4 separate regions of the Homo sapiens genome follow, and regions 2, 3 and 4 are each linked to region 1. The links come from fine-mapping of genetic effects on gene expression. A gene starts in region 1. Each other region holds a variant in brackets. All regions are shown on one strand. Distances are from middle to middle. Region 1 holds the start of DCLRE1C (DNA cross-link repair 1C). Region 2 overlaps DCLRE1C (DNA cross-link repair 1C). Region 3 overlaps SUV39H2 (SUV39H2 histone lysine methyltransferase). Region 4 overlaps CDNF (cerebral dopamine neurotrophic factor).

What was found. PIP is the estimated chance that this variant, and not a neighbour inherited with it, causes the effect.
Region 2: its variant is the best candidate, but not a certain one, in a credible set for the expression of DCLRE1C in whole blood (TOPMed, PIP 0.57).
Region 3: its variant is the best candidate, but not a certain one, in a credible set for the expression of DCLRE1C in thyroid (GTEx, PIP 0.61).
Region 4: its variant is the best candidate, but not a certain one, in a credible set for the expression of DCLRE1C in subcutaneous fat (FUSION, PIP 0.87).

The regions. Positions count from the first base shown.
Region 1 is chr10:14,951,668-14,959,890 of GRCh38, forward strand. DCLRE1C (DNA cross-link repair 1C) reads right to left here and starts at 2,429. Exons shown (of 14, transcript NM_001033855.3): 1 at 2,235-2,429. The coding sequence starts at 2,343. It overlaps MEIG1 (meiosis/spermiogenesis associated 1), which reads left to right and starts at 7,721. Exons shown (of 3, transcript NM_001080836.3): 1 at 7,721-7,890. RefSeq lists enhancers at 1,066-1,794, 1,795-2,522 and silencers at 2,541-2,620, 7,944-7,993.
Region 2 is chr10:14,909,646-14,914,645 of GRCh38, forward strand. All of the region lies in intron 13 of DCLRE1C (DNA cross-link repair 1C), which reads right to left. Among named protein-coding and RNA genes, the nearest start is that of SUV39H2, 33 kb to the left of the region's middle. The variant C/T (reference allele first, on the strand shown) is at 2,662.
Region 3 is chr10:14,894,344-14,902,537 of GRCh38, forward strand. SUV39H2 (SUV39H2 histone lysine methyltransferase) reads left to right here. Exons shown (of 6, transcript NM_001193424.2): 3 at 2,503-3,174; 4 at 5,196-5,342; 5 at 6,790-6,919; 6 at 8,063-8,194. The coding sequence ends at 8,169. It also overlaps a transcript of DCLRE1C not described here. Among named protein-coding and RNA genes, the nearest start is that of SUV39H2, 20 kb to the left of the region's middle. The variant C/T (reference allele first, on the strand shown) is at 5,312.
Region 4 is chr10:14,827,380-14,835,964 of GRCh38, forward strand. It overlaps CDNF (cerebral dopamine neurotrophic factor), which reads right to left. Exons shown (of 4, transcript NM_001029954.3): 2 at 766-893. Among named protein-coding and RNA genes, the nearest start is that of CDNF, 6.4 kb to the right of the region's middle. The variant A/T (reference allele first, on the strand shown) is at 4,203.

The sequences.
Region 1 (8,223 bases):
GACAGCCGCCTTCTCACTATGCACTCACATGGCTTTCCTAGGCCCCGCATGAGGACAGAGCGCCCTCTCTCTTCCTTCTCTTGTAAGGAAACTAATCCTATCAGAGTAGGACACCACGGTAGGACCCCACTTAAACTTATTTTCCTCCTAAAAGCCCCAGCCCCAAATACAGTCGCTTTGGGGGTTAGGGCTTCAACATATGAATTTTGTGGAGATAGTCCATATCATAATCAAAGAAGCCTGTGTCCCAAAAAGGTGAAAAGCCAACAGAAGGCAATGTGAGAAACCTCCAAAAGCAGAAGTTGTGTTTTCACCCTTGATGAGTTTATGTCCTGGTTGACTAAGCAGATCCACATGTGGTCAGAGAACAGAAAAAGTTGTTATAGACTGTTCAACAGTAGGGAAGAGTCCATTTCTGGCTTAATGCACAAACTTATGATGATTTCAAATTCCTTTAGATTTATTATTTCTCCAAACTCAGCCATCCTAAACACGAAGTGCAAGTTTCGGAAGTATACTTTAATCCTGGCTAGCCCATTTTGAGTTCAGAGACTCCAGTGCGGCTCTACACAAAAAGTAAAAATAGGCATATCCTCGTCCAGCAGTGGATTCTCAATGAAAAACAAAACCAGAAATGTGTCAGGCACAGCGGCTCACACCTGTAATCCTAACACTTTGGGAGGCTGAGGTGGGTGGATCTACCTGAGGCCAGGAGTTCGAGACCAGCCTGGCCAACATGGTGAAACATCATCTCTACTAAAAACACAAAAATTACCTGGGTGTGGTGGTGCGTGCCTGTAACTCCAGCTACTTGGGAGGCTGAGGCACGAGAATCGCTTGAACCCAGGAGGCGGAGGTTGCAGTGAACAGAGATCACGCCACTGCACTCCAGCCTGGTGATGGAGACTCCACCTCAAAATAATAATAAAAATACAAACATTAGCTAGGCATGGTGGCTGACTCCTGTAGTCCCAACTACTTGAGCAGAGAGCATGTGCCACACTGTACTCCAGCCTGGGCGACAAAGGGAGACCCTGTCTCCAAAAAAAAGAAAAAGAAGAAGGAGATGCTCAAAGACGTGCACGATGCGAATACGGCAACGCACGAGAAGAGGTCCAGATTTTCCCATTAAAGAGAAATCACTGGTGGCTTTGTGGAAAAAAAAAGCAGAGACATTTCGCAGAAGCAGTAACTTCAACGATTTATAGTCCAAGTGATTGATTCCACACACAAAACAACATAGCTGGCCTTCACACCAACCCTGTGAGGAAAGGCTGTGTTTGGATACCTGTAATTTACTTTAAAATACTTTCCTACTGCGCAGGTACAGATAGGTTTGTTACGCTGATTGACTCCACAGGGTAGTGGGAGCTTCCTGCTCCAGCACGCTGCAAGGCCACACAGCAGGAGGCAGCAACTCCAGTGATTCCGTTTATCATTTTCTCCAATTAACACTAATGGCTGGGCGAATTAGCACAATGAGCATTAAAACTGTTTTCCCTGGTAAAAGTTAGTGACTTGTTAGCACAATAGAAGTGAAAATGAACAATGGTTGTCAAGTTAGCGGTATTTAAACTCTGGAACTTAGCTCCAATCTCTGCTTGGAGCATCAGCGACACTCTAACCTTAATCCCTAAATCGGCCCAGCTGTGAAAGGATCCAGCTGTGAAATCATAGTAGCTTTTCAGGTTGCCTGATACCATCTAGAAGGGAAACATCCCTCCAACCTAAACTAGAACGAAACTTTCATATTGGATACGGACAGAACACCCAAAGGCCAAGGAGCTTGCACTTCGTGGAGCTCTTAGGCGGGCTGTTCCACAGTTGTGTGTGTGTCTGAGTCTCCTGCTTGCTGACCAATGTTTGAGGGTGTGGTCAAATGGATCTGAAACTTGTTTTCTTCATACATGGTAGCGAGGCTCTGAGGGAAGTACTAACCCTCGCCAATCTCTGATCATCGGCCACCAGCAAAGCTACCAAGAGAAACTACTAGCAGTGCTTGACCAAGCCGGCCCGGGGCGCAACTGGCAGGCGCCGTTACGCCGCGTTGACCACATCCGAAAATAGATGAAGCCTTTGAGAGGCTGAAGAGCCCGACTGGGACAAGGCGTGTGCTGGCCGCCCCCTCGCTGGCTTCCCACAGGCTGCAGCTCCTTGCTCCAGGGCCGGCCCCCTCCTGTCCTCTCTCCAGCCCCCAGCGCCCCGGGAGCGGGCGACGCGCAGCCCTCACTCACCTTTGTGGCAGTGGGACAGGAAGTAGGCGCGGGCCCTCAGGTTCTCCCTATCGAAGCGGTCTATGGAGATAGTTGGATACTCGGCCATCTGCCCCTCGAAAGAACTCATAGCGCCGCCGATCCCAGAGTCCGGGACCCCAAAACCGCAGCTGAAGCCAAGGCCAGCCCTGACCGCGCCGCCACTTCCGGGAAGCCGCGCGCTGCCTCGCCATTGGGCGGCCGAACGCAGCCACGTCCAATCAGAGGAGTCCGGAGACCGGGGGCAAAGTCAAGGAGCATCCGGTCGGGTTCTAGGCGCCCGCTGCTTGGGTTTAAATCACCCGCGCTTCGCTGCACGCGATGGGCCCTGAGCCCTGCCCAGTGCAAGGCTCATTCCCGCCCAACAAACACAGGTGTTGCTCTGGTAAGGCGTTGCCCATGTCTGTGGAGGTGCAGTCGCGGGAAGGGAAATCGAAACTCCCAGAGCAGGTGGCCCCAGCCGACGAGGTGAGTGGGCTGCGGAACTGCGCTTAGAAATCATTCTTCGTTCCGCTTCCTGCTTGTCTGCTGCTAGCCTGAAACCCGAGCTCAGTTCCCCGCCCTCTCTCTTCTGTTCCCAATTTCTAACCTTGTGGGATTACCGTGAGGGTTGTATGAGAAAGTTTGTATCTGACTCATGGTAGATTCAGGAACTATTAATTCCCTCTTCCGTTTATATAATCTACAAACTGAATAAATCATCTCTGCGTGATCTTGGGGCAAATAAGATCCCAATAATGCCTTCGCTGCTGGCCTCTCCCCTGGGCCCCCACCTTTTTGAGCTATACTTTTAGGAAGTTAGAATGATGTACTTAAAAAAAGAAAAATGGCAGGAAAGGTCTAAAATTTTTTAACAACCAAAGCAACTTTATGAAAAGGTTTGTTAAACCTTTTATTGTATTTCCTTTATTGTATTACAATAAACCAAATAATCACCATGACATTTATTGTGCTCCTTCCTATCAAATCTCCTTAGTATAATTAAACACAAACAACCCAGAACACTTTCGCTTTATTTTATTTATTTATTCAGTTGGGGTCTAGTTCTATCGCCCAGGCTGGAGTGCAGTGGCGTGATTTCGGCTCTCTGCAACCTCCGCCTCCCGGGTTCAGGCGATTCTCCTGCCTCAGCCTCCAGAGTAGCTGGGACTACAGGCACGCGCCGCCACGCCTGGCTCATTTTTATATTTTTAGCAGAGACGGGGTTTCACCACGTTGACCAGGCTGGTCTCGAGCTCCTGGCCTCATGCGATCCGCTCGCCTCGGCCTCCCAAAGTGCTGGGTGAGCCATTGTACCTGGCTTTCCAGGCCTCCATAACACTTGAAGTCCCACTTTGTGCACAGCACTGTGACAAACCTTCGGGTAGCATTCAATCTATCTGGCGACAACATGTTTGCAGAATATGGCAAATAAATGCTTCCACAGAGACGCAAGGTAACGTGAGAACAAATCCAGGAACAAAGATTTCTGACCAGGGAAATCAGGAATCAGAATGCCATCCCAGCCCACCTCAGTGGCTCATGCCTGTAATCCCAGCACTTTGGAGGGCTGAGGCAGGTGATCACCTGAGGTCAGGAGTTCAGGACCAGCCTGGACAACATGGTGAAACCCCATCTCTACTAAAAATACAAAAATCGGCCGGGCATGGTGGCACACATCTCCAGCTACTCGGGAGGCCGAGGCAGGAGAATCACTTGAACCTGGGAGGCGGAGGTTGCAGTGAGCCTAGATCATGCCAGTTCACTCCAGCCTGGGCAACAGAGAGAGACTCTGTCTCAAAAAAACAAAACAAAACAGAATGACATCCCTAGTGAATGTCAGCTTGTGCCTGTAGCCATGATACTCAGAGTTCTATTCAAATACAGATTTCCATGAAATCTTGAGGAGGGGGAGGAGGGGTGACATGGAAAGGTATACACAACATAATCACTAATTGAGGTAAAATATCCTGCTAGTATACTACTGGCAACACCTTTGATGGTTTGTCTTAGAACACATGGGAACAACTGCCCTGGCAGGGTTATGGAGACCTAACAACAAATTCTGCTGTGAGTCTAGTGTCCGAAGAATCTCACGGTAGAGCTCCAGGAAAGGCAGGTCAAGTTAATGCTCGTGATCTTATGTATTTGCTCACTTATTTATCTCCTCCTCTTTCCACAATGGATACAGTACAAACAAAGGGAAATAGAGTCAGGACAAAGAGAAAGACAGGATAGAAAATAGGCAAGATAGGTAAGCATAGCCCAGACCAAACCTAGTGAATCAGAAACTCTGGGAGAGTGGGGCCTGGCAGTTTGCAGCTTAACACACCTTCTAGGTGATTCTGATGGACCCTAAAGTTTGAGAACCACTGGATTCGAGTCTAAAGAACATTCAGGGCCAGTGTGGTGGCTCATGCCTATAATCCCAACACTTTGGGAGGCCGACGCAGGTGGATCACCCGAGGTCAGGAGTTCGAGACCAGCCTGACCAACATGGGGAAACCCCGTCTCTACTAAAAATAAAAAAAAAAATAGCCAGGCATGGAGTCAGGGGCCTGTAATCCCAGCTACTCAGGAGGCTGAGGCAGGAGAATTGCTTGTACCCAGGATGCGGAAATTGCACTGAGCCGAGATTGGACCATGGCACTCCAGCCTGGGCAACAAGAGCGAAACTCCATCTCGAAAGCAAAACAAAACAAAAAAACACAACACTCAAGAAGTCTGGGGCAGGAATTCAGGTAGGAAGCTGCTGCAATACTGCAGGAAATGTGATGGTGAAGCTTAATTCATTCAGCAAATCATTCACTGACCATCTACTGTGTATCAGACACTATTTTAGACACTAAAGATACAGTAGTGAGCAAAGTAGACAAAAAATGTGGCCCATCCTGGTGGCTCCTGCCTGTAATCTCAGCACTTTGGGAGGCCAAGGCAGGTGGATCACTTGAGGCCAGGAGTTAAAGACCAACATGACAAAACCCCAGCTCTACTAAAGATGCAAAAAGAATTAGCCGGGTGTGGTGGTACACCTACAATAACAACTACTTGGGAGCTGAGGCACAAGAATCACTTGAACCTGGAGGCAGAGATTGCAGTGAGCCAAGATGGCACCACTGCACTCCAGTCTAGACGACAAAAGAGACCCTGTCTCAAAAAAATAAAACTAAAAAAGCAGACAAAAATCCCTGTGGACGTGGGAGTGTACCTTCTAATGCAAGTAATTACTGTCTACCATTTATGTAGTTCCAGATGTTATCAGTGTTTTATACTCATTATTTCATCCTCACATCCTACCTGCCCATCAGATAGGTACACTTTCTGTCCTCATTTGCCAGTTGAGGATACGGAGGTTAAGTAGCTTGTCCAGGGTCATGTTGATAGTAAGTAGAGCTCAGATTTAAATCCAAGAAGGCCACCACACTTTTAGACACTGTGCTCTCTGACAACACACTGCTAGCCACCGTGCCATGCTGCCTCCACAGCATCGGAAGGGCAGTGATGAAATATACTGATTCAAAATATATCCCTTTAGCACCTACTGTGTGCTAGGCAGTGTTAGGCCAGTGTGGCTGCAGCAGAATGATCCGGGGCTACAGAGGAAGGAGGGAGGGTGTTGTGAGCAAATCTTACAGGGCTTTGCTCACCATGTATAGCCTCTGGTTTTCACTCTCCATAAGATGGGAAGCCATTGCAGGGTTGTGAGCAGAGGACTGACATAATTTGACTTAGGTTTTTTTGTTTTGTTTTCTTTGAGACGGAGTCTCCCTCTATGCCCAGGCTGGAGTGCAGTGACGCAATCTCGGCTCACTGCCACCTCCACCTCCACCTCCACCTCCTGGGTTCAAGCGATTCTCCTGCCTCAGCCTCCCGAGTAGCTGGGACTACAGGTGCACGCCACCACTCCCAGCTAGTTCTTTTGTATTTTTAGTAGAGAAAGGGTTTCACCATATTGGCCAGGCTGGTCTCGAACTCCTGACCTCGTGATCTGCCCACCTCAGCCTCCCAAAGTGCTGGGATTACAGGTGTGAGCCACCGCGCCCGGCCTTGACTTAGGTTTTAAACAGATTGCATTGACTGTTGTGTTGACAACAGACTACAGAGGGGGCATAGAGAGCTGTTGGGAACGGTTGTAATTACCAGAAAAAAGAAAAATTATGATGGCTTGAGTAGAAGCTATAAAGTCAGCAGGTTGCATTGATGGATATGGAAAGAGAGGGCTCTAGGCCACATCTACTAAAAGACATGAAGAAGGAGCAGGGTTTTTGTTTTTGTTTTGGCAGGGAGGTGTTTGGGGAGGTTGTTTTGTACAATCAAGTGGATGTTGAATATACATTGATATACAAATCTAAAGTTCAGAGAAAGACCGGGCTGAAGAGAGAAATTTGGGAGTTGTAAGTAAATAGTTTTTTGTTTTTAGTTTTACTAAGTATTGCCTTTGTTTTAGTATGACTCGTTTATTTAGAAGTTTATATAATTTAATTTGTGATATGTCTTGTGTTTTTGTTTTGTTTGGGGCAGGTGCCCGAGGCCCTTGTCATCTTCATTGACTCCAGCTCATGGCTTGTATTTAACAACGAGCTCAGAAAAATTCCTAAAAATTTAATTACTGAGTCTCCAGAGCTCTAATGAGCTGGCTCCAGCACACAATTGCTCCTTTCTTTCATTCAACAATTTGACAAGTCCTGATGGCTCTACATTCAAAACATGTAAATTGGCCGGGCGCGGTGGCTCACGCCTGTAATCCCAGCTCTTTGGGAGGCCGAGGCGGGTGGATGACGAGGTCAGGAGATCGAGATCATCCTGGCTAACACGGTGAAACCCCGTCTCTACTAAAAATACAAAAAATTAGCCAGGCGTGGTGGTGGGTGCCTGTAGTCCCAGCTACTCGGGAGGCTGAGGCAGGAGAATGGCGTGAACCCGGGAGGCGGAGCTTGCAGTGAGCCGAGATAGCACCACTGCACTCCAGCCTGGGCGACGGAGCGAGACTCCGTCTAAAAAAAAACAAAAACAAAAAAACAAAAAACCGTATATCTTGAATCTGATCACTTTTCGCTTAGATAGTACTGTAATATAGTAATAGATAATGCTAGAAAAAATAATTAAAGCTATAGATATCATCTATTGTAGGTTTACTGATTGTCAGGCACTATGGCGACTCTCTGGAATGGTTCATTCCTCGCAAATGAATAGATAGGAGATATCTACTATCAGGAACTACAAACACAGTCTCCGTGCTGTGATCCGCTTTCACAGGGAATTTTGTCTGGGATTCAAGTAGCGGCAAGTAACCCTTTTTCGCCCTCCATCTCTGCTCAGGGGTGAGCCCTGGCAGCGCTCCTACCTGGGACCTACATTGGCTTAGTAAGATGGGCCGGCGCCCACCCCAGCCCTCGCGCATGCGCATAAAAGCCCACTCCCGGGGGCGGGGCCTGAGCTAGCTGGGCGGGGCCTGAAGGAGCCGGGAGCTCCTGCAGCTTCATCGCGTTACTAAGAGACGCGAGGGTCGCGAAGGGCACAACACTTGGCCTCTCGCTGGCCCTGCTCGCGGATCCCGAGTAGAGAACGCAAGCACCCACGCCCGCCTGCAAGCTCCCGGGCGCCCCCGGCCTCTCCTGCTCGGCGGAACGAGGATAACCCAGTAGAGCCGGACCCAGGGGTGGGTGGATGCGTCGCTGGAGGCGAGGGCCCTGCCCGCCAACCCCTGCGCCCCGGCCGTAGCCCCACCCCGGAAGTTCTTGCCCCGCCTTCTCGGCTCCGCAGTTCTCTGCTGTCTCCTGAGGTTTGCCAGGGAGATCCCGTGGTTTTCATGTCTCTTCCGTGATTTTTAGGGAAGAGGGTCACTATTTGGCCCTTCCAGAATCTCAGGGTCCGGTTCTCCCGGAAGTTTCCGGGCCGCCCCGGACCCCATTGGCTTTAGGGGCCGCGTCTCCGAGGGCTCCGATTTGGGCCCTAGATTTTGGAATACTGTGTTTTGTCCGTCCCAGCCTTC
Region 2 (5,000 bases), 44 kb before region 1:
CCTACTGAATCCCTGAGGAAGATAGGACCAAATAATTTGATTTTTAAGTTCTACAGCTGATATCTGTTCAGCCAGGTTTGCAAAGCCTGTGTGCTCTGCAAATAGTAGATGCTCAGTGGGTTGGCTGACTTAGGAAAATTAAATTGCTTTTTATTAAGGTTTTTCTTCTGTGAGCATCTTATTGACATGTTTTATGCACAAGGTTGCAACAGGTTAAATCAACTTTAAAGCAAAATACTGAATAATCAACGTGTCAAGAACTTAAAATTCAAAACATTAATAAGCATGCTGTGTCAACAAATGTTCTTAAAATGAAAAAAGCCTTACTTAGAAAAACAAATATTTTCCCATCTTGTAACAGTATCTAACCTAGGAAGAAAGTTAAATGCACCCAAGACTACTGTGTATGGCAACTTCTTGTTCTACTGCTGAATCTGGTGTTATAATAATCCACTTAAATGATGTGGCTAAACACTGCATTTTTAAGACACTAATATAAAGGACCATAGAGACCATTATCCAGCTCCCATGTTCCCCGTGTGAAGCTAGGCCCAGAGAAAAGGGTGTGCCAATACACACGACCCAACCTCATTCTTAAAGGTTCAGTGTTATGACTTGTAACTGAACTTAGGGCTTAAGGTCACTAAGATATCTAACGACTGTATTTGGAATCATCCTAGACTGCAGAATGTAGATTTTAAGCCAAAGATCATATGTATGTTTTAGGTCCCTCACTACTATGCCAAAGTTGTTTTTTGAGTTTTATACAGTCACAGTTCAGCCTCTACCTCTCAGGCTCAGGAGATCCACCCCCATGCCCAGCTAATTTTTTTTAGACAGTGTTTCCCCTTGTTGCCCAGGTTGGTTTTGAACTCCTGCACTCAGGCAATCCACCCCCTCGGCCTCCCAAATTGCTGGAATTAGAGGCATGAGCCACTTTGCCTAGCCCAAAATTACCTTTTTATGAAATATTTTTGTATGATCTCTAAGTTGAACAGTTCTGCATTCCAAATCAGTGACTATGCCTGATCCCAAAAGACATTTATCAAAAAGGAGTGTGGATTGGGTAGATGCATAAAAGGCACAAAAGATTAAAGGAAGAAAGGACTTTTGCTTCCAGGTAAGATGGAGTAACGGACTAGATTTAACCTCCCACTTGAAATAACGAAAAATCAGAAACTATCTCTCAAGAAAATGGACATCGAGCAATTAAGGACAATGACATGAGAAATAAGACACAGATGAGTCCTATGATTGCCTGACTCCCTGCTTCATAACAGATTCCAGTCAGGGAGGGAACATCTGGATAGAGCCCATGGACATCCTTGATGTGAGGTGGAAGTGGAACATTGAAGAAATAAATGTACCTGGAGTTTACAGAGCAGAAGACCAGAGAGGAGAGTGCTGCACAGAAACTCTGAAAAGCTGCAGAGGCGTCCCCACCACGTGTTCAGTGCACTAAGCAGCATGTGCTTGTAAGGAAACTACCTGCAGCCAGGCAACGAATCACTCAAACAAAAGGAAAGAAAGTGCCCAGAACTCACCGTGCCAGGAACAGTGTCTTGTCCTGGTCCCAACAGCCAGAGTGGAAAACCTCATGATCCATGGGCATTTGTAAAAGAACCAAGAAGAGCCTTGCCTCAGTAGTGGGGAAAATTAACCATATACTAAATGCTACTCTGTTCCTGCATAACAAAGGTAAAAGACACGAAAAGATCAAACTATAAACATGCTAACCACATGCCAGAACAAAGCTCAAGAATGTTTTTAGAAATCCCAAAATTATGCAGGACCTAAAAAGGTAAAATTCAGAATGTATGGCATTCAAAAACAAATTATCAGAAATTCAAGAAGCAGGAAGATACAGTCAAAACTGACTGTAAAATTATGTAACATGGGAGTCAATTTTCATGATCTTGGATCAAATAGTTTCTTAGATATGACACCAAAGCATATGCAATAAAAGAAAAAAATAGACAAATTTAACTTAAAACCTTTACGCTTCAAGACACCATCAAGAAGGTGAAAAGACAAGTCTGAGAAAATATTTCCTAATCATGTCAGATAAAGGACTGATACCAGACTTTAACTCTTACAACTCAATACAAAGGTCAATAATCCAGTTGAAATGGGGGCAAAAGATCAGAATAGACATTTCACTGAAGAAGTTACATAAATGGCCAATAAGCACATGAAAGAAAGCTCAACATTAGTCATTAGAGAAATGCAAATCAAAACTGCAGGGTACCACCATACACTAGGATGGCTATACTAAAAAAGACGGAAGTGTTGGCTAATATGTGAAGGAACTGGAATCTTTACATATTGCCGGAGAGAATGTAAAATGTATTCAGTGTGGGAATGTTTGGCAGTTCCTTGGAGTGTTAAAACAGATTGACCATATGTTATGAACTGAACGCTTCCTGTCAAAATTCATATGTGGAAGCCCTAAAGCCAGTGTGGCTGTTATCTAGAGATGGACCTCTAGGGAAATAATTAAACCATCATAAGGCTGGAGACTTGATCTGCCTAAGTGCTAGAATTACAGGCTTGAGCCACTGTGCCCAGCCTAATTTTTACTTTTTTTTTAAGCAGAGACAAGTTTTCACCATGTTGGCCAGGTTGGTCTTGAACTCCTGATCTCAGGTGATCCATCCGCCT[C/T]GGCCTCCCAAAGTGCTGGGATTATAGGCGTGAGCCACTATGCCTGGCCTCCTGTTTAAGCTACCTAGTATGTGTTATTTTCTTAGGGCAGCCCAAGCCAACTATATGACTCCAAAATTCTACCCCCCACAAGAAATAAAACCCAACAGAAAGATACGTAAAGACTTGTACTCAAATTTTCATAGCATTATTATTTAAAAAGGAGAAGCAACCCAGATGTCCATCAGCTGGTGAGTGGATAAATAAAATGTTGTATGCCTGTACAATTGAATATTGGTTGGCAATAAAAAGGTATGAAATACTGATATATGCCACAGTATAGATGTACCTTGAAAAGATAATGCGAAATAAAAGCCAGGCACAAAATAGCACATGGTGTATAATTTCTTTTTTTTCTTTTTGAGACAGAGTCTCGCTCTGTCGCCCACACTGGAGTGCAGTGGTGTGATCTCACTGCAAGCTCTGCCTCCTGGGTTCACGCCATTCTGCCTCCGCTGCCCTAATAGCTGGGACTACAGGTGCCCGCCACCACACCTGGCTAATTTTTTGTGTTTTTAGTAGAGACGGGGTTTCACCGTGTTAGCCAGGATGGTCTCGATCTCTCTGACCACATGATCCACCCGCCTTGGCCTCCCAAAGTGCTGGGATTACAGGCGTGAGCCACTGTGCCTGGCCAATAGCTGGGACTACAGGCGCCCGCCACCACACCTGGCTAATTTTTTGTGTTTTTAGTAGAGACGGGGTTTCACCGTGTTAGCCAGGATGGTCTCGATCTCTCTGACCTCATGATCCACCTGCCTTGGCCTCCCAAAGTGCTGGGATTACAGGCGCGAGCCACTGTGCCTGGCCATATGAGTTCTCTTATATGAAGTGTCCAGAAAACACAAATCTATAGAGACAAACCATAGATTAGTTGCGGCCTAAGGCCGGGAATAGTAATGGGGAGTGACTGGAAATAGACATAAAGTTTCTTTTTTGGGTAACAAAAAATGTTCCAAAATTAGATAGTGGGGATGATTGTACAATTCTGTTATACTAACAGTCGTGGAATTGTTCACCTATAATGGATGAATTTATGGTGTATCAATTATACTTCAATAAAGCTTAAAAAATAATTTTGTATTGTGGAGTTTATAAAGTTAATAACAGAGAATGTATGACAATAACAGCACAGACTGGGAGAAGAGGAATGGAAATATACTGCTGGAACATTCCTATACCATATTTGGAGTAATATATCATTTATCTTTTCACTCTGATATGTTAAAGATGTATACGGTCAGTCCTCTGTATCCACAGGTTCCACATCTGTAGATTTGACTGACCACAGATCAAACATATTTGGAAAAAAGCAAAAATTAAAATACAAAAAACACAAAAATTGATACAGTATAACAACTAGTTACCAAGCATTTACACTGTATTAGGTATAAGTAATCCAGAGATGATTTTAAGTATATGGGAGGATATGTGTAGGTTATATGCAAATGTAACACCATTTAATATGACTTGAGCATCTGCAGATTTTGGTACTCTTGGGGGGGTCCTGGAACCAATCCCCCAAGGATACTAAGGGATGACTGCATTATAAGCCACTAAAATAAGAAATCAGTGAGTTACACAGCCAATAACCCAACAAGAGATTAAACAGAATCAGTCAGTAATTACTTGACCTGAAAGAAGGCCAAAAAAGAATAAAGAACAAATGGAACAAATAGCAAGAGGATAAACTTAAACCTGACCATATCAATGGGTACCATTAAACTAAGTGGACTAAGCACTGCAATTAAAAGCCAGAAAATACCAGGTTGGCCATAAAAACATCCAACAACATACTGCTTACAAGAAACCCACTTTAAATATAAAGACTAGTTAAAAATACAGAGATGGAAAAAGATACATCAAGCCAATATTAATGAGAAGAAATTCAAATGGCTCTAGTAGATTGTAGAACTAAGAATGTTACCAGGGGATAGACTCATTTCCTAAAGATAAAGGTATCAATCCCTCAAGAGGATATAAGAATCTTAAACTTGTGTATACCTATTAATAGTGCCTCAAATAGATGAAGCAAATGCCAATAGAACTAATCAAGGCAAAATAGGCAAGTCCACAATTACAACTGGAGATTGCAACACCCCTCTCTGGCAATAATTGATAGAACAAGAATGTAGAAGACCTGAACAACATTGTCAACTAACTTAGCCTAGTTGACATTTATAGAACACTTCATCCAACAACAGTAGTACATATATTTCTTTGAAGTACACATTAAACATTTACCAGGTTTAATGTGTAAATTGGTCCACAATTGATGGTCCGTAAATATTCTGGACCAT
Region 3 (8,194 bases), 57 kb before region 1:
AAGAAAGCAAAGTTTTTTTTTTTTTTTTTTTTTTTTTTTTTTGAGACGGAGTCTCGCTCTGTCGCCCAGGCTGGAGTGCAGTGGCGCGATCTCGACTCACTGCAAGCTCCGCCTCCCGGGTTCACGCCATTCTCCTGCCTCAGCCTCCCGTGTAGCTGGGACTACAGGCGCCCGCCACCACGCCCGGCTAATTTTTTGTATTTTTAGTAGAGACGGGGTTTCACCGTGTTAGCCAAGATGGTCTCGATCTCCTGACCTCGTGATCCGCCCGCCTCGGCCTCCCAAAGTGCTGGGATTACAGGCGTGAGCCACCGCGCCCGGCCGCAAAGTTTTTAATTCACAAAGATTACTGCTTGTTGAATAGAATATAATGAAACAAAATATTAAGATGCAGATAGTGGGGATAAAATAAGCCCACTCCTGGGTGGGCGCCTGGTTCCTGCACAGCTGCCTCATGGTGTCCCTCAGCCCAATTTGTGCCTCAGCAACATGGCAGATATCACATGGCTTAGACCTTTTGTCATTAATGCATTATGACTGTTAAAACAACTGTCATGGACCTCTGTACTTTGTAATAAAAACTTTCTTAAAATTTTCAGGGAAAAGCAGTTATCTCAATTAACAAGATTTTTCAGTATCTAAGACTTAAAATGATAATGTAACTGTCCAATGCAGTTTAATCACCTTTTTATCTTAGAAGACATTTTATGATCTAATGTTACCCTTGGGCATGTGGCTATATATTATTCCAGAAGAAAAAAAAAATTACTGAGACTTTACTTCAAAATTTGTTAGACACACTTAACTGTGTTTTTTATCTTTTATTTTTTACTTTTATTTTTTTTTTTTTTGACATGGAGTCTCACTCTTTTGCCCAGGCTGGAGTGCAGTGGCACAGTCTTGGCTCACTGCAACCTCCTCCTCCTGGGTTCAGGCGATTCTCCTGCCTCAGCCTCCCAAGTAGCTGGGATTACAGGTGCCTGCCACCACACCCGGCTAATTTTTTGTATTTTTAGTAGACAGGGTTTCGCCATATTGGCCAGGCTGGTCTTGAACTCCTGGCCCCAAGTGATTCACCCACCTCTGCCTCCCAAAGTGCTGGGATTACAGGCGTGACCCACCGCACCCAGCCGGAACTGCCTTTTTAAAAAGAAACTTAAACGTGGCATTGCCTTACTTTAAGGGAGGAAAACATAGTCATTGGAGTGAAAAGACAAGATACCATGGTGCCTTGTTGCCAAGGCATCGTGGCCAACAACAGTCTGAGGGATAGATTAGAATAGTTGCTCTTAGGTGGCTTGAGTGCCTGCTACCTAATCCAGTCATGGGTGAGTCTAAATAAAATCAGCATTCTCTAGAAGAGAGCTGTCCAATAGAAATGTAATGCAAGCTGCAGATGCCATTCAACATCTACTAACCACATTGAACAAAGTAAAAAGAAACAGCTGAAATTGCTTTCAAGAATGTATTTGATCCAATATATCCAAAATATTATTTCAACCTGTAATAGTTTTAAGTTACTTAGTGTTCTTTTTTTTGTATGATACAAAGTCTTCAAAATTCAGTGTGGGTTTTTTTTTTTTGCTTTTTTTTTTGTTTGTTTGTTTTGTTTGTTTGAGACTGAGTCTCGCACTCTGTCGCCCACGCTGGAGTGCAGTGGTGCAATCTTGGCTCACTGCAACCTCTGCCTCCCAGTTTCAAGCGATTCTCATGCCTCACCCTCCCTAGTACTGGCATTACAGGCGTGCACCACCACACCCAGCTAATTTTTGTGTTTTTAGTAAAGATGGGGTTTTCCCATGTTGCCCAGGCTGGTCTCGAACTCCTGGGCTCAAGCGATCCACCCACCTTGGCCTCCCAAAATGCTGGGATTACAGGCATGAGCCACCGTGCCCAGCCTCAGTGTGTATTATATTTTAAGCATATCTCAATTCAGATTGGCCACATTTCAAGTTTTCAGTAGCTGTATGTGGCTCGTAATAACCGTATTGGATAGTTCATCTCTAGAACATCTAGAGAATGTGTGCCCATGATGTTGAGAAATGAGTTCCCTTGTGTCTGGTGTTTGATATTAAGTTATGGACGTTAAGAATGCCTGAATCTATTGCTGGCCAAGTAAGCCACTAACCTAGGTCATAAAGAGTTAGCTTTGGGACCATTTATTTCCATGATCAAAATAAATACATCTGGGTTTAACCTGAATCACCATTTAGTAACATAGTCATCAGTTTCAGTACCTTTGTCTTTTTCCAGGTAAAACTCTTTAGCCTCTTATCAAACATGTTATGCCACATCTAAATTCCATATTTTATGTAATATAAGGAAAAATAGTTTTATTTGTATGATTTATACTTCATGTGTTAGGAACCTGTGACTACATGTTCTGAACTGTTAGTAAGAAAAATGGTATTGGATACCTTACTCTTTAAGATTTTTAATTATTTTTGGTAAAACTGGGAAATAGCCGTCTGATTTGCATTTTATTTTCTTTTGTATTTTAAGGATATGGAATATTATCTTGTAAAATGGAAAGGATGGCCAGATTCTACAAATACTTGGGAACCTTTGCAAAATCTGAAGTGCCCGTTACTGCTTCAGCAATTCTCTAATGACAAGCATAATTATTTATCTCAGGTAAAGAAAGGCAAAGCAATAACTCCAAAAGACAATAACAAAACTTTGAAACCTGCCATTGCTGAGTACATTGTGAAGAAGGCTAAACAAAGGATAGCTCTGCAGAGATGGCAAGATGAACTCAACAGAAGAAAGAATCATAAAGGAATGATATTTGTTGAAAATACTGTTGATTTAGAGGGCCCACCTTCAGACTTCTATTACATTAACGAATACAAACCAGCTCCTGGAATCAGCTTAGTCAATGAAGCTACCTTTGGTTGTTCATGCACAGATTGCTTCTTTCAAAAATGTTGTCCTGCTGAAGCTGGAGTTCTTTTGGCTTATAATAAAAACCAACAAATTAAAATCCCACCTGGTACTCCCATCTATGAATGCAACTCAAGGTGTCAGTGTGGTCCTGATTGTCCCAATAGGATTGTACAAAAAGGCACACAGTATTCGCTTTGCATCTTTCGAACTAGCAATGGACGTGGCTGGGGTGTAAAGACCCTTGTGAAGATTAAAAGAATGAGTTTTGTCATGGAATATGTTGGAGAGGTATGTTTCATTTGCCACGTAGTAAATGATGGACATGCAAGGTTTATACTTTTGGAAAATTACCTTTTTATCTCTTTAAGAGATACTTGGTACATTTTGATATTTTCATTTGCAGATATGTAGAAATTTATTCAGATTTAGGAGAAGAGTTCACTGGCATATTTAGAAATAAAAAACTTTTATATGAATAAAAAATATACGTTAAAACAAATTGATATAGTCATCTTTCAACAAATACACATTCCTACTAGTCAAACCTAGGATTTGTAAAATTTAAAATATGACAACTGTTTTTACCCAAAAGTCCTAAGAAGAAACTCAGATGTAACACATGCTGCTTTGAAACTTGAAAGTTTTAATTTACTTCATCTATTTGACCAAATATGATTAAATGTAGTTGGCAGAACTCTATTTTGGATCAACATGAAAGATACTATATTTATGAGTTTTGTAAAATATACACAAGCATTTATTGCATCCATAATCTGTAACTTACTTTTGAACTGTGAAGACCATTCTCAAAACTACCATACAAATACTAGCAAATTTATTTGTATACAAATCATATATATGTATATATATATATAAATGTAAAAAGTATTTGCCGTGTGTCACATACTATTCTAAGCACTTGATGTATTAATTCACTAATCCTCTCCAAAACTCAGTGAGGTAGTACTGTTTCTTTTTTTTTTTTTTTTTTTTTTTTTTTTGAGAAGTAGTACTGTTATGTCCATTATTGTAGAGAAATTGAGTACCTTGCCCAAGGTCACACAGGTCACATAGTAATAAGAACCGAGATTCAAAGCTCTAAAATCAGTAGTCTTCACCATGGCACCACACTGCTTCAAACTGAAGGGTAGGTTGAGCTGTGACTAGAAAGACACAAGCATGGCTACATATCTGGAGTTGTCAACTCTGGATTTTTTAGTTGGAATTGGGTCACCTATAATTATCTGTATTCATCTATAATTCTGAAACTAAATTAGATGGCTGTTTTGATTCTTACACTTTTAGACAGTGGTAGATTATTATAAATTATTCAGTATACAAGATCTTGTATAATCAAATTACTCTTTTTGTTAACCAAAATTTTTTAAGTTGCATTCTTAATGAGTGCAGCAGCCAAATTTGGTTGGTAACATAAAGTACTTTAGACACTTTTGGTTTCTTAAGCCGAGCGTGTCATAAAACTTGTGTTCTTAAGAGCAGAACTGTAGATGACGATCTTAGACTTACAGAATTGCATGAAAATAACATATTCTACAAAAACAAAACCTTCCATTCCAAAGTTAACATAGCTTCTCCCCTGTATTTTTAACAATTTTCCATTTGTAACTGCATATATATAAGTTATAGGAAAAATGTGCCTGGATCATATTTAGAGCATATACTTGCAGATTTAGTCCTTAACATTCAGTTGTGTCCTGTAGAGAGCTATAGTTGTATAGCTTTTTGAACATCCTAATTATAATGAAAGTAATGCAGTGTTCCAATGTACTGCTCAAATCCTGTTTAAAAAGTCATAAATCAACCAGTTACAGTTAATCCCAGCACTTGGGGAGGTCAAGGCTGGAGGCTCACTTGAGCCCAGGAGTTCCAGACCAGTGTGGGCAACATAGTGAGACCCCACATCTCTATAAAAACTAAATCATTAGCTGGGCATGGCGGTATGCACCTGTGATCCAGCTAGTCAGGAGGCTGAGGCAGGAAGATCGCTTGATCCCAGGAGTTAAAGGATACAGGGAGTCATGATGGCACCACCGCATTCTAGCCTGAGTGACAGAGTGAGACCCTGTTTAAAAAAAAAAGGTCATCAGTCTTTTGCATTATCATTTTTCTTCCCCTCATTTTCCCACCTCTTTGCATCTGAGTCTTAGTTTGTGTGAATGTTTGCTTTGATGACACCTGAATTTCTTACTTTTTAAATATTTGTAGGTATTCGCATATTAGTAGATAGGTAGATGAATGCTTCTTTGGTTCAGTAGCTACGTAATATACTTACAGTTTTTTCTGTTTAGGTAATCACAAGTGAAGAAGCTGAAAGACGAGGACAGTTCTATGACAACAAGGGAATCACGTATCTCTTTGATCTGGACTATGAGTCTGATGAATTCACAGTGGATGCGGCTCGATA[C/T]GGCAATGTGTCTCATTTTGTGAATCACAGCGTAAGAAGACATACGTAAATTTTAGACACGACTAACAATTCAACCTAGTACTAGTTTCCATAGCTAAAGAATAATTCCCTTTAAACTACATATCCTTTTAACATTTCCAAAATATGTATTTTATAAGGAGGGCAGCTTCTGTTAAGTTATGGTATTATTGCTGTATTAGGAAAATTAAACATTGAGGTGCCTACCAAATATTAATAGGGTGTATTTTACAAGAGTCTTTACATATGTTACTTCATTTAAACTTTCTAGTAACTTTGTACGGTAGGTATTACTTTCATATTACAATGAGCAGAGCAATTAAGAGGTAAAATGTCCAAGAATTACACAGAACTGTATCTTAATGGAAGTTAACACGACTACATTTTAGGATGTACAACTGAAGGTAAATGTATTTTCTTAAAATGTAAACATGTTAACTTTTTATAAAATTTAAAGATTTGTAGAGTATTTATGTAGGGCTATTTTTCTAAATTATAAATTAGTATTCTTCCTTACCTTTTAATGTCTGAAAGCTCTTAGAATACAGCTGGCACTTAACTGCAGAATTCTGGACTCTAAATAATTTCCAAAAATTAGGGAAGTTAATAATTTTGGGTTACCTACTAAGTAGCAAGTGGACAGTAAAACATTAGGCTTGTTAGGGTGACATTATCTGCATTTTGTGGATAATAAGGACAGTGTGTGCCACAAAGTTATATAGCTGAACATATAAAGGAAGTAGACCATGTTAAACTTCTGATGGATTTCATAGTAAGAAATTGGTGTATGATTAGCAGAGAGCTTCTGGGCCCTTGTTTGTTGATTAAACATTGAAGAATTTTTTTCTTAATGATAAATTCGAGATACTCTCAAAATAGAGATATTCTATCCAGGGCCATCAAACAGTTTTGATTCCTTAGTATGACTCACTACATCTTTTTTCTTGCATATTCCGTAAGTTTACTGTAGTATTCTCAAAACATTGAAGAGTTTGGACCAAAAATTCAAGCAGTGAAACTCCATGCAGTGTAAAATTTGAGTTCTGTAGTGCAGATTTGATTTTTTAAACACAGTTGTTCTAGTTATTTTAAAGTGTATGCCTTACTGAAATAGTTACCAGTGAAATAATAATGTTATCTGGGATTTGTATTGAAATTCTCCAGGAAAAAAAAAAGTTGGGACTAGAGGAATAAGATTGGCAAGCATGTTACTAATTGTTGAAGCTGTATAGTGGATACATAGGGATTTCTTATTTTCTCTATTTTATACTTGTCTGAAGTTTTTATAAGGGAAAAAAATCTTTTTAAATGTGCATGCCTCAAAGACCTCTAAGCAATAAGCAACTTAATTTCCAGTGGAACTTAAACTAAATCTCTAGGAAAGTAAACATTTTATATGGCATGTAGAAGGGCTTGTTTACACCGTTTGTACTTAAATGGGTTCTAATGTTCCTTTTTAGTGTGACCCAAATCTTCAGGTGTTCAATGTTTTCATTGATAACCTCGATACTCGTCTTCCCCGAATAGCATTGTTTTCCACAAGAACCATAAATGCTGGAGAAGAGCTGACTTTTGATTATCAAATGAAAGGTATGCTTTTCAAGTACAGTTTCATTGGTGTCAGTTTCAATATGAAGAATCAAATCAGACTAGGAACAGACCTTAGATATTTGAACCAAACCTAATACTAAAGATGAAAAGTTGAGGCACTAAGTTTGTCATCCTAAGGTACAAAGCTAATCCAACAGCTAATACTAGAACCCAGGTCTGCCTGAGCTTCAGCTGAGGAATGGTTCTACATCGTAAATTTTCAGAACTTCCATTTTGGAAACTGATTTATTTATTATAGCATCTTAATACTGTACTACTTGTCTTTTTTTTTTTTTTTAAATTGTGGGCTAAGCATGCTGGCTCCTGCCTGTAATCCCAGCACTCTGGGCTTGAGCCCAGGAATTCAAGACCAGCCTGGGCAACATGGTGAAACTCTGTCTCTACAAAATATGAAAAAACTAGCCGGGCGTGGTGGCGTGTGCCTGTAGTCCCAGCTACTCGGGAGGCTGAGGTGGGAGGATGGCTTGAGACAGGGAGGTTGGGGCTACAGTTGAGCTGTGAATAGCACCACTGCACTCCAGCCTGGACGACAGAGACCCTGTCTGAAAAAAAAAACTATAAGCCTACATTTTTGAATTTTTACTGAGAGATGTATATTCAAAAGATTGAAAATATTTAAATCACATACAAATTTATTCTATTCCTACTTGAACCTGGCTTTTAAAAAGAACATTTAATTCTATTTGCTTTATTGTGACAATATAAATGTTTTCTTTCCTTTAAGAATGATGGCCTTTACATATTGTCATTGCTTAACCTCTTACATACTGTGCTTTTATATACGGTGTGAAATGAATGTGTATTAGATATTCCCAGTAAGTTTCATCATTTCAGAAATCCTTTCTGACAAATATGGGCTAATAACATAAAGTTTACCTATTATTAACCCACACCATCCTTTCAAGACAATTCATTATGATTTGACGCTGAATATTAACATTTATTTGTAAATATTTCAAAGGGAACTAACTACATTTCCTTGGGAGTTAACTTACTCTAAGGGTCTTGACCATGTAAGTACCCTCTATCACTGATAATAAAGCTAATATAATAGAAAATTTGAAATTTATTCTAAATTGTCTTAACTCTCTTTCTCCTATATTTCTTTTTCTGTGTCTTCAGGTTCTGGAGATATATCTTCAGATTCTATTGACCACAGCCCAGCCAAAAAGAGGGTCAGAACAGTATGTAAATGTGGAGCTGTGACTTGCAGAGGTTACCTCAACTGAACTTTTTCAGGAAATAGAGCTGATG
Region 4 (8,585 bases), 120 kb before region 1:
TAAAACAGTATATTGAAACAAGCCATATGTGTATGCCCAGGAAACACCATATTAATGTGATTAGAAGAAAATATAAATACTTTATTAATTATGTATAAATAATAATGTAAAATATTTTGATAAGTTTGATTAATTGTCTTGGTAAGAAATGGAAAGCCCACCCACTCTTAGGATGCTAAATTCTTATTGGGAATTCAGTTTCATAATTTCATTTAAGAAAACGTAGAATTGGGCTGGGCATGGTAGCTCATTCTTGTAATCCCAGCACTTTGGGAGGCTGAGGTGGGTGGATCACCTGAGGTCAGGAGTTCAAGACCACCCTGGCCAACATGGTGAATCCCTGTCTCTACTAAAAATACATAATTAGCAGGGTGTGGTGGTGCACACCCGTAATCCTAGCTACTCGGGAGGCTAAGGCACAAGAATGCTTTGAACCCAGGAGGCAGAGGTTGCAGTGAGCTGAGATGATGATACTGCACTCTAGCCTGGGCAACAGAGCAAGACTCTGTCTCAGAAAAAGAAAAAAGAAAACATAGAATTGGTTATCTGTGGTGTACTCAGAAAGTAAAGTAACACTGGAAATATTCTGGATGAAAACACGCAGAACTACATGTCACTGGAAGATGGATTTCTGCTTGCTGCGTGCTCTAAAATGGACATACTTGAGGCAAACATGTAAGTAGGAGGACTTCACGTCTAAGAAATGAAACTATTAGCAGTATTCTTCAAGCACATGGGGAAAATGAAAGGTGAAATTTACTATACCAGGCGGTTTTCTTTTCCTTTGGTGTCCAAGCAAAAACTGATCAATTCTTTCTCTATAGTGTCCAGCGAAAAGTTAACTCCTCTGTCTATCAGTGACTTGTAGAATCGGTTCAAGAATTCTTTACATACTGGAAGGAACAAATAAATATGTCTGCATGCACAACTTAACCACTACCACACCTATGCATATGACCCACTAACCACATTTAAAAGTCTATATGGGGCTGGGCATGGTGGCTTACCCCTGTAATCCTAGCACTTTGAGAGGCTGAGGTGGGCAGATCACAAGGTCAGGATATCGAGACCATCCCGGCCAACATGGTGAAATCCTCTCTCTACTAAAATACAAAAAATTAGCCAGGCATGGTGGCGCGTGCCTATAGTCCCAGCTACTCAGGAGGCTGAGGCAGGAGAATCACTTGAACCCAGCAGGTGGAGATTGCAGTGAGCCGAGATCTTACCACTGCACTCCAGCCTGGCGACAGAGCAAGACTCCATCTCACACACAAAAAAAGAAACGTCCATATGAGTCAATGCTTCATGACAGTGGATTCCAATGCTAAGTAAGAATGATTTGGGGGCCAGGCATGGTGGCTCACACCTGTAATCCCAGCACTTTGGGAGGCAGAAGCAGAAAGATCACTTGAGCCCAGGAGTTTGGAGCCAGTCTGGACCACATAGTGAGACCTTGTCTCTACTAAAAAAAAAACACAAAAAAACAAAAACAAAAAAACACCAGGCATGATGGTGAATGCCTGTCGTGTCAGCTACTCGAGAGGCTGAGGTGGGAGGGTCACTTAAGCCCGGCAGATGGAGGCTGCAGTGAGCTATGATCAAGCCACTGCACTGCAGCCTGGGTGACAGAGTGAGACCCTGTCTCAAGAAAATTAAAAATATAAATAAAAAGAATGATTTCAGGCCTGTTGCTATTAGTTTAGTATTGGGCCTAAATGCAGTGGACACATTGTAACAGCATATTGAATCAATCAATCATTGGAACGAAGTTCTACCTAAAATGATAACTTTTCCACAAAATTTGGCTAACCCTAAAATAAAATAGGCTATCATCTTGGGACAGCATAATTGTAAGCACAGAGAAAAACCTGAATAAGAATCCTGAATGAAGCCCCTTGGTGATCTGCATAAGTCTTTATTTCCATCGTTATGAGCCTAAAGTGAAATCAGGCTGGGCATAGTGGATCACACCTGTAATCCCAACACTTTGCAAGGCCAAGGCGAGAGGATCTCTTGAGGCCAGGAGTTTGAGACCTGCCTGGGCAACACAGTAAGACTCTGTCTCTGCACACACCTGTGGTCCCAGCTACTGAGGAGGCTAAAATGGGAGGCTTGTTAGGTCATTTCTTCTAGTTCCTTATATCTTGAAGATACTTTCAAGCTTGTTTTTTATATCTTTAAACACACTAAACTTAATTATGATCTGTGTGTGAAAATTTCAATATCTGAAGTCTTCAGAGTTTTTTTTGTTTGTTTGTTTGTTTTTTAAGACGAAGTCTCGCTCTGTTCACCCAGGCTTAAGTGCAATGGCGCAATCTCAACTCTCTGCAACCTCTGCCTCCCTGGCTCAAGTGATTCTCCTGCCTCAGCCCCCCAAGTAGCTGCGATTACAGGCGCTCGCCACCACACCCTGCTAATTTTTATATTTTCAGTAGATACGAGGTTTCACCATGTTGGCCAGGCTGGTCTCAAACTCCTGACCTCAAGTGATCTGCCCATCTCGGCCTCCCAAAGCGCTGGGATTACAGCCACTGCATCAGGCCCAGAGTACGTTTCTATTTGTTGTTGTTTCTATAGGTTCTTGTTCCTGGTGCCTCGTTTCTTTGTGTGCTTGCTTATTTTGCGCCACACGATACTCATACGTCTCAAAACTTATTTGTGAAGATTGTTTGAAGCCTGAGATGAAGGAGCATTATTTCCAGTAAGGATTTGTATTTGTATTTCTCAGGGACTAAGGGCAACTAGCCAGGCACTGCTTTAAACTAAATATATAGCTTGAAGTTTTTGGGCCCCGATGTGAATTTTGGCTGCAAATACAAGTGAGGGACGTTTTGTTGTTATCATTTCTCAGAGATATATATTTTTTCTTTTTTCTACTTTGCTCAGTGTCAAGGTAAATTTCCTTATAGTCCCCTATGGGTAGGGATGGGTTCGGTTTATGTTCTATGTTTCTTTAAACATAAAAAAACATAACTTCTATGCCTGATTATTCCAATACCTGAAGCCACTGCAGGGGTGTGCCTCTTCTGTTTTTTGTTCCAGCTGGCTCTCACTTATGTGCCCTTCTTCCCTAGGGGTTCATGACTTTTCTAAGTGGCAGCTCTATTTCTTAGAACTTTAACTGTATGAATTCTTTGAGGACTAGGTTGAATGTGGGTTCCTGTAAGTAAGACTCACATTTGCTGGCTGGGCACGGTGGCTTATGCCTGTAATCCCAGCACTTTGGGAGGCCAAGGTGAGTGGATCACCTGAGGTCAGGAGTTCGAGACCAGCCTGGCCAATATGATGAAACCCCGTCTCTACTAAAAATACAAAAATTAGCCAGGAGTGGTGGCAGGTGCCTGTAATCCCAGCTACTTGGGAGGCTGAGGCAGGAGAAATGCTTGAACCCGGGAGGCGGAGGTTGCAGTGAGCCGAGATCACACCATTATACTCCAGTCTGGGCGACAAGAGTGAAACTCCGTCTCAAAAAACAAAACAAGACAAAAACAAAAACAAGACTCACATTTGCTGATTCCTGAGGGTATGATCTACTTAAAATCACTTTCAACTAAATTATCAGTTCGAGATGTTTCAGATCATCCTAGTAGTGTGAATGGGGCCTTTGACCCCTACCTATGTGCACGAGCTTGTAATTATGAGTTATCAAGAAAGTTTTGTTTTTCCTTTTATCAGTAAAAATGTTCAAGTGAAACCATTTCTTTTAGTCTCTAAAGATGGAAATAGGTTGTAGTTACTTTCAGTTCACCCTTTATAATGAAGGGCTAGGTCTTTGGGGCCCTGAATTAGTTGGTAGAGGATCTGCTCTCACTCTCCTAACTTGGAAATGCCTGGGACTTGTGTTTATTTAGCCAAAACCATGAAAACTTCAGTTCAGATCACCTGGCTAACAAATGCTCCCAGGTAAAGCCAGCTTCAGTGCTCCCTTCAACCCCCTGGACTCCCACTTCCACTCTGTGGTTGGCTTCTGGGTATGCCTTCCCAACTCATACTTTACAATATTTTCACATTTTTATTTTATCCAGTATTTTCAGTTGCTTTTAGATGACTGGCCAATCATGTCATCTTTTAGAGCTTAAAGTCATATATATATATATATATACACACACATATATATACTGTATATACATATATATAAAATACATATATACACATATATAATACATATATACACACACACACACACACATATATATATATAT[A/T]TTTTTTTTCAAGATGGAGTCTCGCTCTGTTGCCTAGGCTAGAGTGCAGTGGTGTGATCTCGGCTCAATGCAACCTCCACCTTCTGAGGTTCAAGCAATTCTCCTGCCTCAGACTCCTGAGTAGCTGGGACTAATGGCGTGTGCCACCACACCCAGCTAAGTTTTTGTATTTTTAGTAGAGACAGGGTTTCACCATGTTGGCCAGGACGGTCTCGATCTCCTCACCTGGTGATCTGCCCACCTCGGCTTCCCAAAGTGCTGGGATTACAGGTGTGAGCCACCGTGCCTAGCCCATATATTTTTATTTCTAATGCTATCAACATGAACAGAATACTAAACATAATAGCCAGTTATTCATGTTTTTAACAAATATTTACTAAGCGACTAGTAAGTGCAAAACAGTATTCTAGGTTCCTAAGATTCAGTAATGAAGAAAACAAAGAACTTGCCCTTGAGAGTTACATCCGATAGAAGTAAAGGTATACGTAGCAAAGAAGAAAAATAAACATGGTAAGGAGGATGGAGGGTGACAAGGTAATAGTACGATTCTTAATGGATTGGTTAGGAAAGATCTCTTAGATAAAGTGATATTCAAGCAGACACCTGAAGGAAGTGGAAGAACAATTTAAGTGGATGACTTGAGGAAGAACTCCGCAGGCAGAAGGAACAGCAAGTACCAAGGCTCAAATGCAGGAGTGTCCTTGGTGGCTTCAAGGAACAGCCAGAAGGCCAGTGTGGCTAAAGTAGAGGGAGCAAGAGGGAGGTGTGTAGCAAATGAGATCAAATAGGCAGCAGCATGCTGGGGCATCCAGGGCCTTTCAAGCTTGGTAAGGTCTCTGGATGTCACTCTGAGAAGGGAAGCCATTTAAGGTTTTGAGTAGAGAAGAGTTATGGTCCGACATGATTCATAAAGGATGTCTCTGAAGGCTGTCTGAAGAATGGATTACAAGGAAGCAGAAAAGAAAGCAGGGAGACCAGCTGACCAGTTTAGAGGTTCTCAAAATAGTTGCATCTCTTAGACCAGGGCAGTAGCTACAGCAGTCATGAGAAGTGGTTACACTCTGGACCTATCTTGAAGGAAGAGCCAAAAGAATTTACTAATAAGCCAGATGTAATGTGTCAGAGTTGGGGAGAGAGAGAGGAATCAAAGATAATCCCAATAATTTTGGCCAAGAAACTGGAACCGTGGAGTTGCCATCTGCTGAAATGAGGAAGACTGCAGGAGAAGCAGTTTATGGTGACAAGCAGGAATCTAATCTTTCTTTTTTTGCTTTTTTTTTTTTTTTTTTTTTTTTTGAGACAGAATCTCGCTGTGTTGCCCAGGCTGGAGTGCAGCGGTGCCATTTCGGCTCACTGCAACCTCCAACTCCTGGATTGAAGTGATTCTTGTGCCTCAGCCTCCTGAGTAGCTGGGATTACAGGCGCATGTCACCACACCTAGCTAATTTTTGTATTTTTAGTAGAGATGGGGTTTCGTTATGTTTGCCAGGCTGGTCTCTAACTCCTGACCTTAGGTGATCTGCCTGCCTCAGCCTCCCAAAGTGCTGGATTACAGGCATGAGCCACCATGCCTGGCCAGAATCCAGTCTTGACATATGAAGTTCAAGATGCTTCTAGACGTCTGTGATGGTTAATTTTATGTAGCAATGATGAAATTAACACTTAAATTGATGAACTCTGGGTAAGGCAGATTGGCCTCCATAATGTGGGTGGGCCTTACCTAACTACTTGAGGGCCTGCACAGAACAAAATAGACCAGCCTTCCTGACGAAGAGGGAATTCTCCAGCAGACTCCCTTTAGACTTCCTTCGTACCACAGGCTCTCCTGGGTCTCCAGCCTGCTTGCCCACACTGCAGATTTTGGACTTCTCAGCCTTCACAATCTTGTGAGCCAATTCCTTATAATAAATCTCTTTTTACATAGATAAATATTACAGATATTAAGAAGATATATAGATATAGATTATATGTTCTGTTTGGTCCTATTGGTTTTATTTCTCTGGAGAACCTTGACTAATATAACATCCAACTGGAAACAGTGAGAAGGCAGCTAGATATAGAAATGTGAAGATCAGGTATAAGATCTAGGATGACTATATAAATCTGGAAGCCATCAACATTCAAATGGTGTTTTTGAGATGAGAACACAAAGTAAGGAGAGACGGAAAAGAGACACAGTCCTGGGTCTCAGCCTTGTGAAATCCCAATGTTTAGCAATTGGGAAGATGGAAAACAACCAGAAAAAGACGGAAAGGAGCAGCCAGTGAAGTAGGATAAGAACAAAGACTGAGTGTTATTCCAAAAGGCAAGTGAACACAGTGTTAAAAGGAATGTGTAATGATCTGCTATATTACACGTGGAAAATGAGATCCCTCTCAACATGTATTTTGCTGAGTTTAATTAGCAAATATATCCAGTATGCAAAGCAGAAACCTGCTGTAATGATTAATGCTACAAGTCAGCAGAAACTATCATCAGGCCAGGCACGGGAGTTCACACTTGTAATCCCAGCACTTTAGGAGGCCAAGGCTGGCGGATCGCTTGAGCTCAGGGGTTCAAGACCAGCCTCGGCAACATAGTGAAACTTCATCTCTATTAAAAATACAAAAAATTTGCTGGGTGTAATGACAAGCACCTGTAGTCCAGCTACTCAGGAGGCTGAGGAGGGAGGATCACTTGAGCCTGGAAGACGGAAGTTGCAGTGAGCTGAGACTGTTCCACTGTACTCCAACCTGGGTGACAGAGTGAGGCTCTGTCTCAAAAAAAAAAAGAAAAAAGAAAAAGAAACTATCATCAAAGTCTCCTAGGAGCCTCTAATTCTTGTCTCCTACAAAAGAAACCCCCAGTATTCCAGTGCCTCATCACTCTTGTGGTATTTCCCACAGTATACCTTCATATGATTTCTATACCTCAACTATCACTCTGCCAATGTATCATCTAGGTGATGAAAGTTAGGAATACTAACTTGTCCTTTTCAAGATCTACATTTGACTCACTAAAATATACCCAAAATTTTATCACAGCATATATGCATACATTTCTTCAACAAACTGAGCGCCTACCATATGCCATGCACTATGGTAGCTGCTGGACATGAGGTGGTGAGAAACACTGCCTTGACTTTCAGAGGAGACCAAAACAATATGAGAAGTGTATCAGATACTGTGGGAAAACAAAGGAGCGGCACCTGGAGGAAACTGGGAAACTGCTGAAAGATACTAAATAAGGAAGTAATATGATAGCCCTGCCAGGGGACTAGACAGGAGGGAGACAGGTAGCAGGAAGAATGCTATTTTGACAATGCGGAGGGGAAAACTGCTGAAGTTCTGTAAGGAAGTCCTAGACTTGAGTAAGGAGAAAGGAGCAGGACCAGTCAGGAGGTAGACTCAACGATGTAGTGATTGGTTGGGGGATAAGGGGGAAAGAGAAGTCTAGAATCTAGGCTAGGTGACCAGGTAGTTGTCCCATGCTGTCACCGTAAGCATGACAGTAACAGGTTTAGGGGAGTGAGAAGGGAAGGAGATGATGACTTTGGTTTTTTGACTGTGTTGATGTTGATGTACATCATATCTAAGAGGGCATGTTCACTAGTCAATTGGATGCAAGGTCTGAGACTCTAGAAAGGTCAGTGGATATAAGGTTAGAGATTTATTAGACTGGAGGTAGGTTGGTTTGGGTTGCCAAGAAGAGTGTGTAGACTGAGAAGAGAGAAGAGAAGAGAGCAGAACCCTGGAAAATTCTAAGCCATGGCTAGAGGATCAGAAGCCCACAAAGACACACTGGACAAGTGGGCATAGAGACAGGAAGGAGAAAAGCAGTATCATGACCATGAAGAGAAGGCAGTCTCTGAAAGGGAAAGATGTCAATGGTGTCACACACCACAAAGAAGTCAAGGTAAGAAAGGAAACTCATTTTCTGGACTTACATGAAGAGAATAACCTCACCATAAATGCCCTAACAAATTAGTAGCTTCTTAAGTTTTCTGGGATGTCTTTATTGCTAAAATAACCTCAGATAGCCATACTTCTTTTATTTATATTGTGCTTTTATGTTTATTAAAGATAGTTTTATAAGTGAATCTATAATTATTTTAAAATAAAAAGTTATTTAAAATAGTCCCATAATATAATCCTTTAAAAGAGATTTGGAAATATTTATGTTTTTCCAGTAAACCTCACATTACCTAATAATAGGACTCACAGACTTGAATATCTACAGGGGCCAGGCAAGGAAAAAGAAGAGTTAAGCAATTTGAATCGGGGGCAGAGTAGGGGCGGCAAACTACTCAAAACCCAAGTCCTTTCTAAAAAGAGCAGCCAATAGCCAATTCTACTATACAGCCATAAGGCCAATCTTGCCAGGTCATCTGGTTTTTTGAGAAAA